Homo sapiens: one gene and its partners. Changing the gene in region 3 together with the main gene of any one other region gives a genetic interaction. Each region holds a gene or a part of one and is shown on either strand. Other genes may lie near its edges. The genes, in order: KRAS, MRPL32 and LARS1.

Region 1 (3,658 bases), on a different chromosome or scaffold from region 3:
GCAAAGCATTCTTTAACGGGGTTCTTCTAACAATTAATTTAAATATCTAGAAATTAACAACAAAACCAGGAAATGAATCACTCAACATTTTTAGGTTCGTAAAACTAATTTTCACATTATATTTAAATTGAGACCCCCAGAGAGCAGAAAAGCCGAATGAGGAGTAACAGATACCCCGAAAACTCTGCTTCTGTTATTCACCTTACTGAACCCTCCCACTTTTGATTTTAGCAGACTGGAAAACACACAATTCTCATGGTGTCAATGTTTCAATTTTGACAGCTTTTGCCAACATGGCCATGCACTGTCCAAAGGGACCAGGAAAATCTGTCAACAACCCAGATAAATGTGAACTAGGTAACAGTCCTTATACACTAGGAACATAGGGACTACACAATGTACTAGCAGAAAATAATTCTATTTGCCTTTCAGATATGGACTGAACTGAGTGTAAAGAATATGTAACGCATTATATTCTAGCCAAGTAATTAGCTTTTTAAAATTATAAGTTATTAAGTTGGTAAAAATATATACCCTGCAATTCTTATCTTAAAAAGTACAGCTGGGCACAGTGGCTCACGCCTGTAATCCCAGCACTTTGGGAGGCCGAGACGGGCAGATCACGAGGTCAAGAGATTGAGACCATATTGGCCAACATGGTGAAACCCCGTCTCTACTAAAAATACAAAAATTAGCTGGGCGTGGTGGTGTGCACCCATAGTCCCAGCTACTCAGGAGGCTGAGGCAGGAAAATCGCTTGAATCCGGGAAGCGGAGGTTGCAGTGAGCCAGGATCGCGCCACTGCACTCCAGCCTGGCAACAGTGAGACCGTCTCAAAAAAAAAAAAAATACTAGAGACCAGGCACAGTGACTCACGTCTGTAATCCCAGCACACTGGGAGGCTCAGATGGGAGGATCACTTGATGCCAGGAGTTCAAGACCAGCCTGGCCAACATGGCGAAACCCTGTCTCTACTAAAAATACAAAAATCAGTCAGGTGTGGTGGTGCGTGCCTGTAGTCCCAGCTGCTCGGGAGGCTGAGGCACAAGAATTGCTTGAACCCAGGAGGAGGAGGTTGCAATCAGCCAAGATCCCACCACTGCACTCCAGCCTGGGTGACAGAGGGAGACTCTGCCTCAAAAAAAAAAAAAAAAAAAAAAAAGAGTACTAGGGTAAAATTTCTATTTCCTTTCCATGAACTATGTTAAGTTTTACTTTAAGATTATTAAAGTTAGCCTGTAAAATACAAAAGTTTAACCTAACTTCTAGTAGCTAATCAAACACTAAAGTTACCCAGAGAATTAGGAATCAGCATATTACAGCCAATGGACCAAATGCAGCCACAGCCTTTTTTTTTTTTTTTTGAGACAGAGTCTCGCTCGGTCGTCCAGGCTGGTGTGCACTGGCTTGATCTGGGCTCACTACAGCCTCTGCCTCTCAGGTTCAAGCAATTCTACTGCCTCAGCCCCTTGAGTAGCCAGGATAACAGGCACCCGCCACCACGCCTGGCTAAGTTTTGTATTTTTAGTAGAGACGGGGTTTCAACCACGTTGGCCAGGCTGGCCTCGAACTCCTGACCTCAGGTGGTGTGCCCACCTCGGCTTCCCACCTCATTTCTGGGATTACAGGCATGAGCCACAGCATGCGGCCAGCCTATTTTTATACTATGCACAAGCTAACAACGATTTTTGCATTTTAAAGGGTCATAATTAAAAAAAAATGCAACAGATACCACTTGTGGCCCTCAAAGCCTAAAACATTTACTATCTTGGCCCTTTACAGAAAATATTTGCCAGCCTCTGATTTACATGGATGAGAACTTCTAAATGAATGTTTTGTTCCTTTAACCGGAATATAATTCTTTTTGGGTGTTTACGTGTTTTAGGCTCATGATCAAGACCCCAAAAGTTAGGGCATAAAACAACTTGCCGATAAAATACAACAAGGATATGCACACTAATTTTGTTTAAAAAACAAATAAGGGCCAGGCGCGGTGGCTCATGCCTGTAATCCCAGCACTTTGGGAGGCCGAGGCAGGTGGATCACGAGGTCAAGAGATCGAGACCATCCTGGCTAACACAGTGAAACCCGTCTCTACTAAAAATACAAAAATTTAGCAAGGCATGGTGGCGGGTGCCTGTAGTCCCAGCTACTTGGGAGGCTGAGGCAGAAGAATGGTGTGAACCCGGGAGGCGGAGCCTGCAGTGAGCCAAGATCCCACCACTGTACTCCAGCCTGGGCGACAAAGCAAGACTCCGTCTCAAAAAAAAAAAACAAGAAAGAAAGAAAAATAAATAAATAAATAAATAAATAAATAAGCTGAATAACAGATGAGTAACAAAATACTCTGCAGAAAGGAGGACTTGACATTTTCACCAGTAACTGGAGATGTAAAATTTATTAAAATTCCCATATTTCATTTTATAATCTCTACAGTTACTCGGAATAGCTCTTTAAAGTCTTCCAGAAGCATGCAAATATCAAATTAATTTCAACGGAGGAAGATTAATAAGACTTTTGAAAGGCAAATTAATTTCTAGGCAAATCAACAAGTCCATTTAATAATAAAAGGAAATCAAAGAACAGAAATTAAATATCTAATTTATAGTTTAGCAACATAAATTACATAATAACATCAGTGAAACAGGATGTAAAAGAAAGGTTGAGTGCTCTGTTAAGAAGTACAAGTATTCTTTCATACTGTATCCCTCCATTTTTAATTAGATGATCCACATAAAAATGTCTACAAATCAAATTTGTTTATCTACTTACATATTATATACCTTCAAAAAAACAAATCAAACAAAAAAACCCAAGGCCACAAAACTGTATAAAACCTAAAAATCTCTTATAAAAGGAAGCCAGATAGTTTTCTGATCAAATATGAATGCTGTGTTATATTAAAGTATTAAGGTCAAATAGCAAGAATCAATTAGTACTTCTGAGGTAGTAATCATACAACCACCAAAAAGGAGACACAGCTATTTTAGGATATTATCAAATGAGAAGTGGACAGCAACAAAGTGGGACTAACAAGACTCTTTTTATGTCCTCTACTGCTTTTCTACTCAAAGTATGGTCCAAGTACCAAGAAAAATACCACCTAGGAGTTTGTTAGAAATGCAGACTCGGTCCCCACCTAAACCTTCTGAATTAGAATCTGGATTTTAATAAGCCCAGCTGATTTGTATGCATAAGAAAATATAAGAAGCACTTCTTTACTGCAACCCCTTAAAACATTATGCAAAGTCTCTTAAATTTTTTCTTTTCTTTGTGAAATGTAAGCTAAAATGTTCAGTGGTATAAAAAGCATCTTTTAAAAGTTGTAAGTAAAGCAAATATAAAACAACAATGGTAGAATCTAGGTAGTATATTTGCAAATGTTTTAAATAAAACTCAATTTTGTATTTGAAAATGTTTCATAAGAAAATGTTGGAAGAAAAAATAATAAATATTAGAATCATGTTTTCTCAGTACCTTCTCTCCTAAGAAAAGTCAAGGAGACTGTAAAGACAGTAAAAAGAAAAACAAAAACCAAGCCTCTTCCTGGTCTTTGGAACCTGGAAATGGATTTATGTGAAATCTTAATTCCTCTAAAGTAAAGTGATATATGATATACACCAAGTTTAACCTATAAATCAGGTTTTAGTAAAATTGC
Region 2 (3,140 bases), on a different chromosome or scaffold from region 3:
CTACTAAAAATACAAATATTAGCTAGGCGTGGTGCCAGGCGCCTATAATCTCAGCTACTTGGGAGACTAAGACAGGAGAATCTCTTGAACCCAGGAGACGGAGGTTGCAGTGAAGCTGAGATCAGGCTATTGCACTCCAGCCTGGGCGACAAGAGCGAAACTCCATCTCAAAAAAAAAAAAAAAGAAAGTTAAGTTAAAGAGCCTATTGCCTATTGTTACAATGAGATAAAATTGATAAAACGTGAAATAAACTAAAAGGACATATTAAAAGAAAAATGCAAAGAACATTCGTATCACATTTTCAGTGTGCTATGGAATCTGCTCACATCTTTACTAATAATCTCTTCCAAAACATAGGCTATCTCATATATTCTGAATATGATTTTGATTTAATGTAAAATGTAAAGAAGTACTTCTATCACCTAAGTAAATTAGTATGTTTCATAAAAGTAATTTCCTCCAAAAGCAATTTTAATTTGCTAAGAGAAAAATAAGAACAAAAACCATTCTTACTGCCACACCTACCATCTTAAAAAACAATACCAAAAATGCAAATAATAACCTATTTCCATGTGTTACTTAAATGGAGTTATCTGTGTTAAGTATTCTTGTCTAAGAAAAGGCACTGGCAAACAAAACCAAAGCCAAAACACAGAATTTTTGCTATGAATTTTAAATTTTTTATTTTTGTTCTGGAAATTTTATGTTTACTTAAAACCTTGTATATAATAGAAACATAATCCATTGAGCCTTTGGATAAACAAAATTTTCGGAGTTTACTCATAATATATTCTTCAAATTATCCCACACAAAACTGCTTAGAAAGAATGTGTTAAACTATACTGATGATTTAAAAACAAGCACAACAACATAAAGAATCTTCCTCTATTTCAGGAGAAATGATTTACTGTGAAGTTACCCTTTTAACATCTTTGGTGTCAATTCTGGGTGAACCAGGATGGTCGCTTTCTGTCTCGTTCAATGATCCTCTTGCCCTGATCTTGTTCAGACGGTGTCTCTCCCGTGTACAGCACCACAGTCTCTATGGTGGGAGCCTTAAAAGGGCCCCCTTCTTGCTTCCCTATCTGTCGTCTGATTTCTGCAGTCTCCTTGCACACCTTTTCATAGCAGTAGGCACAAAGGACATGTTTCTGTTTCAGGTGACCACATTCAGGACAAACGTCTATGTTGTTCTTTAAAACAATAAACAAAAACGTATTTTAACATGAGGCAATATAACGAACAAATAACCACTGACAGGAGCAATGCTTACATTTTAACTTTCTTAGGATGTTCAGGCTACATGAGGTCATCATACACCATCTAGTTCCACCTCACTTTAACAGGAAGACTGAAGACAAGCAACACTGAGTTTGAATTAGAGAAAAACTAGAACTAGAATTCAGCCAACCTGAATCTGGTATCTTTACTTAAACACAGCAGTTGTAGTTATGTAAAAAAGAAAAAAGAAATACTCATTTCCCCTAACTCCAAATACTAAATATCAAATAAGGAATTTGTCAACATAATGAAGTGACCCAAACAATCAGCATCTTAAATAAGACACCAAGGAAAAGTGAATTCCCTTTGTCTTTCAATCTATCTTAGGGAAAACAAGATAAGAACATTACAAGTTGACTTCCTTGGCTTCCTCTTTTTATCACAGTGTAATTCAAATTCCTGTACAGAATACAGGTTTCGTATATGGTATAATTTTTCTTTTTAAAAATGAACACTGATTATTCCTTAATGTAAAATTATTTTCTATGTTACATTCTTAGGGTATTTTAATGATATATATATGTGTGTGTATATATATATATATAGAGATAGATATAGATATATATATATCTCCAACTTTAAATATAAAATAGAAACATTATAACCTCTAAAAGATTTATCAACTTATTCTAGATGTAGGTTTGAAAGAAAATACAAAGAAAAATACTAAACAGGATCATTAAAGAAGCTTTAAACACTTGATAAGATTAATATACTAACATTTGTGAGGCAGATAACAAAAGAATTTCCTTTTCTGAAAGGAAGAAAGAGGCTTGTATATTACTTGCCTAACCATATTCTCATTTTGCTCCACTACTGGAAACTGGATTGCATGCACAACTGAAGGTATGAAGACACCCACAGTCAGCTGGTCTTCCTTTCGTGATCAAAGTACCCAACATAACACACTATATACCGTATGTAACAGAAAATAATTCAAGGAAGAAAATAAATGCACAGGATAAGAACTATTCCTTCAGAATAAATGCGATCAGGGAAGTCACATAATAGATCAGTGCAAGATCTCATTCCTAAAATCTTACGTCCTCTTGAGCAAATTTATGAATTACTGTAAGTCTTAAGTAATAAAGTGTTTTTCAGTTCTACATTTAAGTTCAGCCCCAACCATCACTCAATAATACTTTCTGGCTTAAGTTCTAAGGTTTTGCTTAACAGAATGTGGATGCTTATGAAAGTCAGCTTTCTGTTCTCGAGTTTCATCTGTATGGTGCTGCTGTTGTGGAACGCCATGAAGTAAACAGTAACTGAAATCCTAACTGTTAAAACCATACATGAACAGATCAGAGGTAATACACACTGTAATTTTTCTTTACTAGATCAATGAAGACAGTACATCCATGTTGTCAGCGAGGAGAATCTGAAATTGTCTGAGGATAGGAGAACACAAAGAAAATCTTTAAAAGAACATGAGGTCAAAAATCAGAGCTCGAAAATCTACTGCTTCATAGCTGTGTGACCACAGGCAAATTCTTTTTGCCTCAGTTTTTTCATCCTAATAATGAAGAATATCTTATTTGCTTTGGAGGGCTATAAGACATGATGAGATATAATAAACATAAGGCACTGAGATACATCATAGACACTTAATTGTTGTTAGCTATTATATTACTTATCTTAGGGTTTTCCTTCATGGTATTTTGTTGGAAATGATAAAAAAATAAAACAAATATGTAAGGGCTTGTAAAACCCAAGATTCAGTATACCTACTGCTTCTAGCTTTAATTCTAGGCTCTGCCATAGTTAGGATGTTTACTCATCTGTAGTTCAAAACTCACACAGCTCAAGACTGACACAGCTCACAATTCAGAAGTCATGTAGGCACCTCACAGCCTCGTTC
Region 3 (3,658 bases):
GATTATAATTAATCCAATTCTGCAAATCAAAAGGGAGGGGGGAAAAAAGGCAACAATTCAGAGTACTCCATAACATGAGAGGCTTGGAAAGCATTTGAATATAAGGTCTCTTAAAAATAATTTGCAGTAGAATAGCCAGATATACAGTTTTTTAATGTATAATTGATTATATGTAAATTAAGAATTGATGAAATAAGATGACATATCACTTTTTTTCCTGCAACTTTTATACTCACCCATTTTTCTTCTCTCCAAAAATATTTTCGACTAATATATTTAACAAAGATACTAAACACAGAAGATGAAATTTATAAAAAGGTTTATTATAAAATAAAAGAGCTGGATTATGGTTTAACTACAGTTAACTGGTTATTACAATCCCTGGCCCTCTTACCTCAAGCGAATTAGTCAGATAGACTATATTCTCCATAAGCACAGCCTTTTCATCAAATTCTAATTGCAAATCCAGAATACGAGGCCCCATCTTCTCCAGATTTTCCTAATAGCCAAAATGGTATGGAAAAACAAAATCACAGTAAGAATATGTTGGAAAACATACTTCCTCCAAAGTAATCATTCTTCTCTCAACTGATAAAATCTTCAGATTTCAGGAGTTAAAGGAAAGGCCTTGGACTCATGATTTCCTTTACCTACATTTGCTTGTTAATGAAATTTACTAGCTCCAAATAATTATCTTTTAAAGTATTATAAGATTATGGCAGCACTGAAAAGATGGGAAGGCACAAGGTTTTCAGATTTATAAAATAAATACGGTTTTATGATTGTTTATTTAGACTGACTTAACATGCAAGCCCAAAGAATTCACTTTACAGGGAATCAGCCAAATGTGTGAAAATATCCCTTTAAGTTACCCAAAAAAAACAAAATTTTAATTTTCTGAGATACCACCTTCTTAAAGCTGTTTCAGAGAATAGTGAATTAATAATATCCAAACAAAAAATCCCCAAAGATATTTCTGCAAAGTTTAAAGAAAAAAAACTCATACTACATGAGTACTCAAACATGGCATGTAAAAAATAATTTCTTATTCTTAATTTTCTTGGGTAGTCAATATTTGCTGTGCAAAATAGAATCCTAGAGATCCAAGTACATATGCAGATATAACTACCTAGAACATGTTATACTTAATGAAAGTGACCTGATATTATTCCTGCTACTCACTGTTTTCGCTTACTATGCAAGTTCTATTTCTTTTTCTCATGGAAGTGCTAGAAAGTCATTTTCTTATTCCCAGATGTATTAATCCCTTCCAAAATTTGCAAAACCACTAATTTGCCTGGCAAATCACCAACATAATTTTAAAAATATATTACCACTCAAACGGTCTGATGCTGGTTCTTCAAATTTAAATGAGATCCTAAAGAAGCCAACTCTTGAATCTAATATCATTTTATACACACACACACACGCACACACACACTCTATATATATATACATATACACATAACTACTTTTCAAATAGGTTTCCCTGGATTCTTTTAAAACATGTCATCAAAATTAATTGCCTTTGCAACCATCAATGGAATATTTTGTTGGATCCACATGTTGACAGAGATTTGGCATTATGACCAATGACACTAGCCACTGGGGAACCAACGAACTATGAACATACCAGCACTTACATTACAACTTGATTAGTGTAGGTCAACACAGGATTCTAAATTACTTCTGAAACTTAAAATACCCTGAGGATCAAATAGTGACTTTGGTCTAAGAGAATTAAAAACCTTTTCCAAGAATACTAATCTATTATAATATTGAAGAAGTTAAGAGGTCTGGTCTCCATCAGGCATCTGCAGCCAAGAAGACACAAGAATTAAAGGACAGTACAAGAATAACTACAATATGCTTAGTAGGCTGGAAGATACTAATTTGTATTTTTAAACAACATTTACTGAGCCTACTTCTTGACTAGTGCTACTTAAGTGTGTTAGGTACACTATTTTATTTACTCCTCACAGCACTCCTAAAAAGTTTGGTTCTATAGTATCCTCATTTTATGGATGAAAAATCCTGTAGCCCAGAAAATTTAAGTGATTTGTCCAAGGTCTCAAAACTAAGGAGTGACTGATACACAGAATTTCAACCAAGATTTTTCTGGCCCCATAGCCTGCGATCTTAAGCAATATAAGCCTTCTTTCGGTTTCTTTTTGTCAAGAAATCCAGTAATACATCAGCGACGTATATGAAGAAAACTAAGGGTCTAACCCAATAATTCTCAATGGTAAGAAGTGGAAGGTGATTCTGCCCCCAGCGGACATTTGGCAATGTCTGGAGATATTTTTCATTGTCATAACTAGCAGGAAAGGTAGTTCTACTGGCTTCTAATGAGTAGAAGCCAGGGATGCCATTACATATCCTACAGTGCACAAGAAAGTGCCCCACAAGAACTATCTAGCCCAAAATACCAACAGAGCTATGCTGAGACACCCTGGTCTAACCACTATAACCAATGTTTACCCTGTTAAGCTATACCTATACAAATGTTGAATCCTGGTTCCAGGAATAGGGTCTAGGAAATGCAAGCCTCTATAAGCCTAATGTAAGCCAAAAGAGTTTGAAAGAAGGGAAGGTAGAATATGAAGGGAATAGTTCAGTGCAGCCATTCTAAACCAATTTTTCTCCCACAATAATATTTTTCACATACTCAGCAATTCCACAAGTAAACCCAAAATCTGATAGATCATTTCTCTCAGTCATTGATTGAAAAGTGCTATTTTAGCAGATTTCTGGCAGGAGACTATGTCCAAGGCTTTTCCCCATCCTTCTATTGTCCCATCTAACCATTGCTCATGTGGTCACAGCTGCATAAGGTCCACAGCTTACCTTAATCATGGCAACAAATGGCATGACTTTCTTCATGTATTTCTTCAGTTCTGGCATACTGCCTAGTTCACTAGCAATGACTTTGTTGTCAGGCAGTTTTCCGTTATTGGCCTAAGAAAAGGAAGGAGGGAGAGTAATGTAGAAAAAAAAGTCTCAAGAATAAGGCAGAACAGTAGATGTGACCAGGCATAGAATGGTGGCCTCTATCAATCCTTAGAGAACAGCAGAAAAGTGTCCAGCCCTAGCATCACGGGGAAGTGAAAGCTCAATGAACAATGCAGAAGGAACTCTCCTATTCTCTATAAATTAACAACACATACTTTTTAGTTTAGAAGAGAAAAAGAAGTGATTTGTGTTGAATATTTCTCCTGTTCAGAAACTAAATGGTCTCATAAAAACTTGTTTTCAAATTTCTAAAAGCATTTTATTAGTCATATTAAAATAAAAAATTACACAACTATCATACAAGTTTATATAATGTCTGCTTTTGGACACTTGGAAGAAACTGTTACCACAATTGTGAAAAGAATCCCTAGCTACTGACCTGTTAAAAACAGAATCATTTCTATCTACTCAAAAATAAATGTCCATATCATATATCACTGATGAGTACAATCCAAGTGTGCTTTAAATGAATCTAAATTCATTTCTTTCTACAAATATTAACGGTCCCCTCAATAGAGTGAGAAATAAAGCAACTGGTCTTTTCAAAGTTTTGGGCAACTTGTTTTCTCTTTATTGTAAAAGAAGGGTTGGGAATGAATCTAAATGAAAAGGAACATATAATACAATTTCAAATAATCTATTTTCA

Evidence for each region.
Region 1: changes in LARS1 (region 3) and KRAS are lethal when combined (synthetic lethality), as found in Homo sapiens cells (2 studies listed by BioGRID, with this or other methods).
Region 2: changes in LARS1 (region 3) and MRPL32 together harm fitness less than expected from each alone (positive genetic interaction), as found in Homo sapiens cells (one large-scale study listed by BioGRID).

What each region holds. Positions count from the first base shown.
Region 1 is NC_000012.12:25,219,887-25,223,544, forward strand, and holds part of KRAS (GTPase KRas), read right to left. Parts: intron 1-3,658. UniProt on the Homo sapiens protein: Ras proteins bind GDP/GTP and possess intrinsic GTPase activity. Plays an important role in the regulation of cell proliferation.
Region 2 is NC_000007.14:42,935,376-42,938,515, reverse strand, and holds the end of MRPL32 (large ribosomal subunit protein bL32m precursor), read right to left. Parts: intron 1,353-3,140; exon of another isoform or gene 1,275-1,352; intron 1,195-1,274; coding exon 940-1,194; 3' UTR 659-939; downstream 1-658. UniProt on the Homo sapiens protein: Component of the mitochondrial large ribosomal subunit (mt-LSU). The mitochondrial ribosome (mitoribosome) is a large ribonucleoprotein complex responsible for the synthesis of proteins inside mitochondria.
Region 3 is NC_000005.10:146,123,588-146,127,245, forward strand, and holds part of LARS1 (leucine--tRNA ligase, cytoplasmic), read right to left. Parts: intron 2,959-3,658; coding exon 2,848-2,958; intron 500-2,847; coding exon 395-499; intron 1-394. UniProt on the Homo sapiens protein: Aminoacyl-tRNA synthetase that catalyzes the specific attachment of leucine to its cognate tRNA (tRNA(Leu)).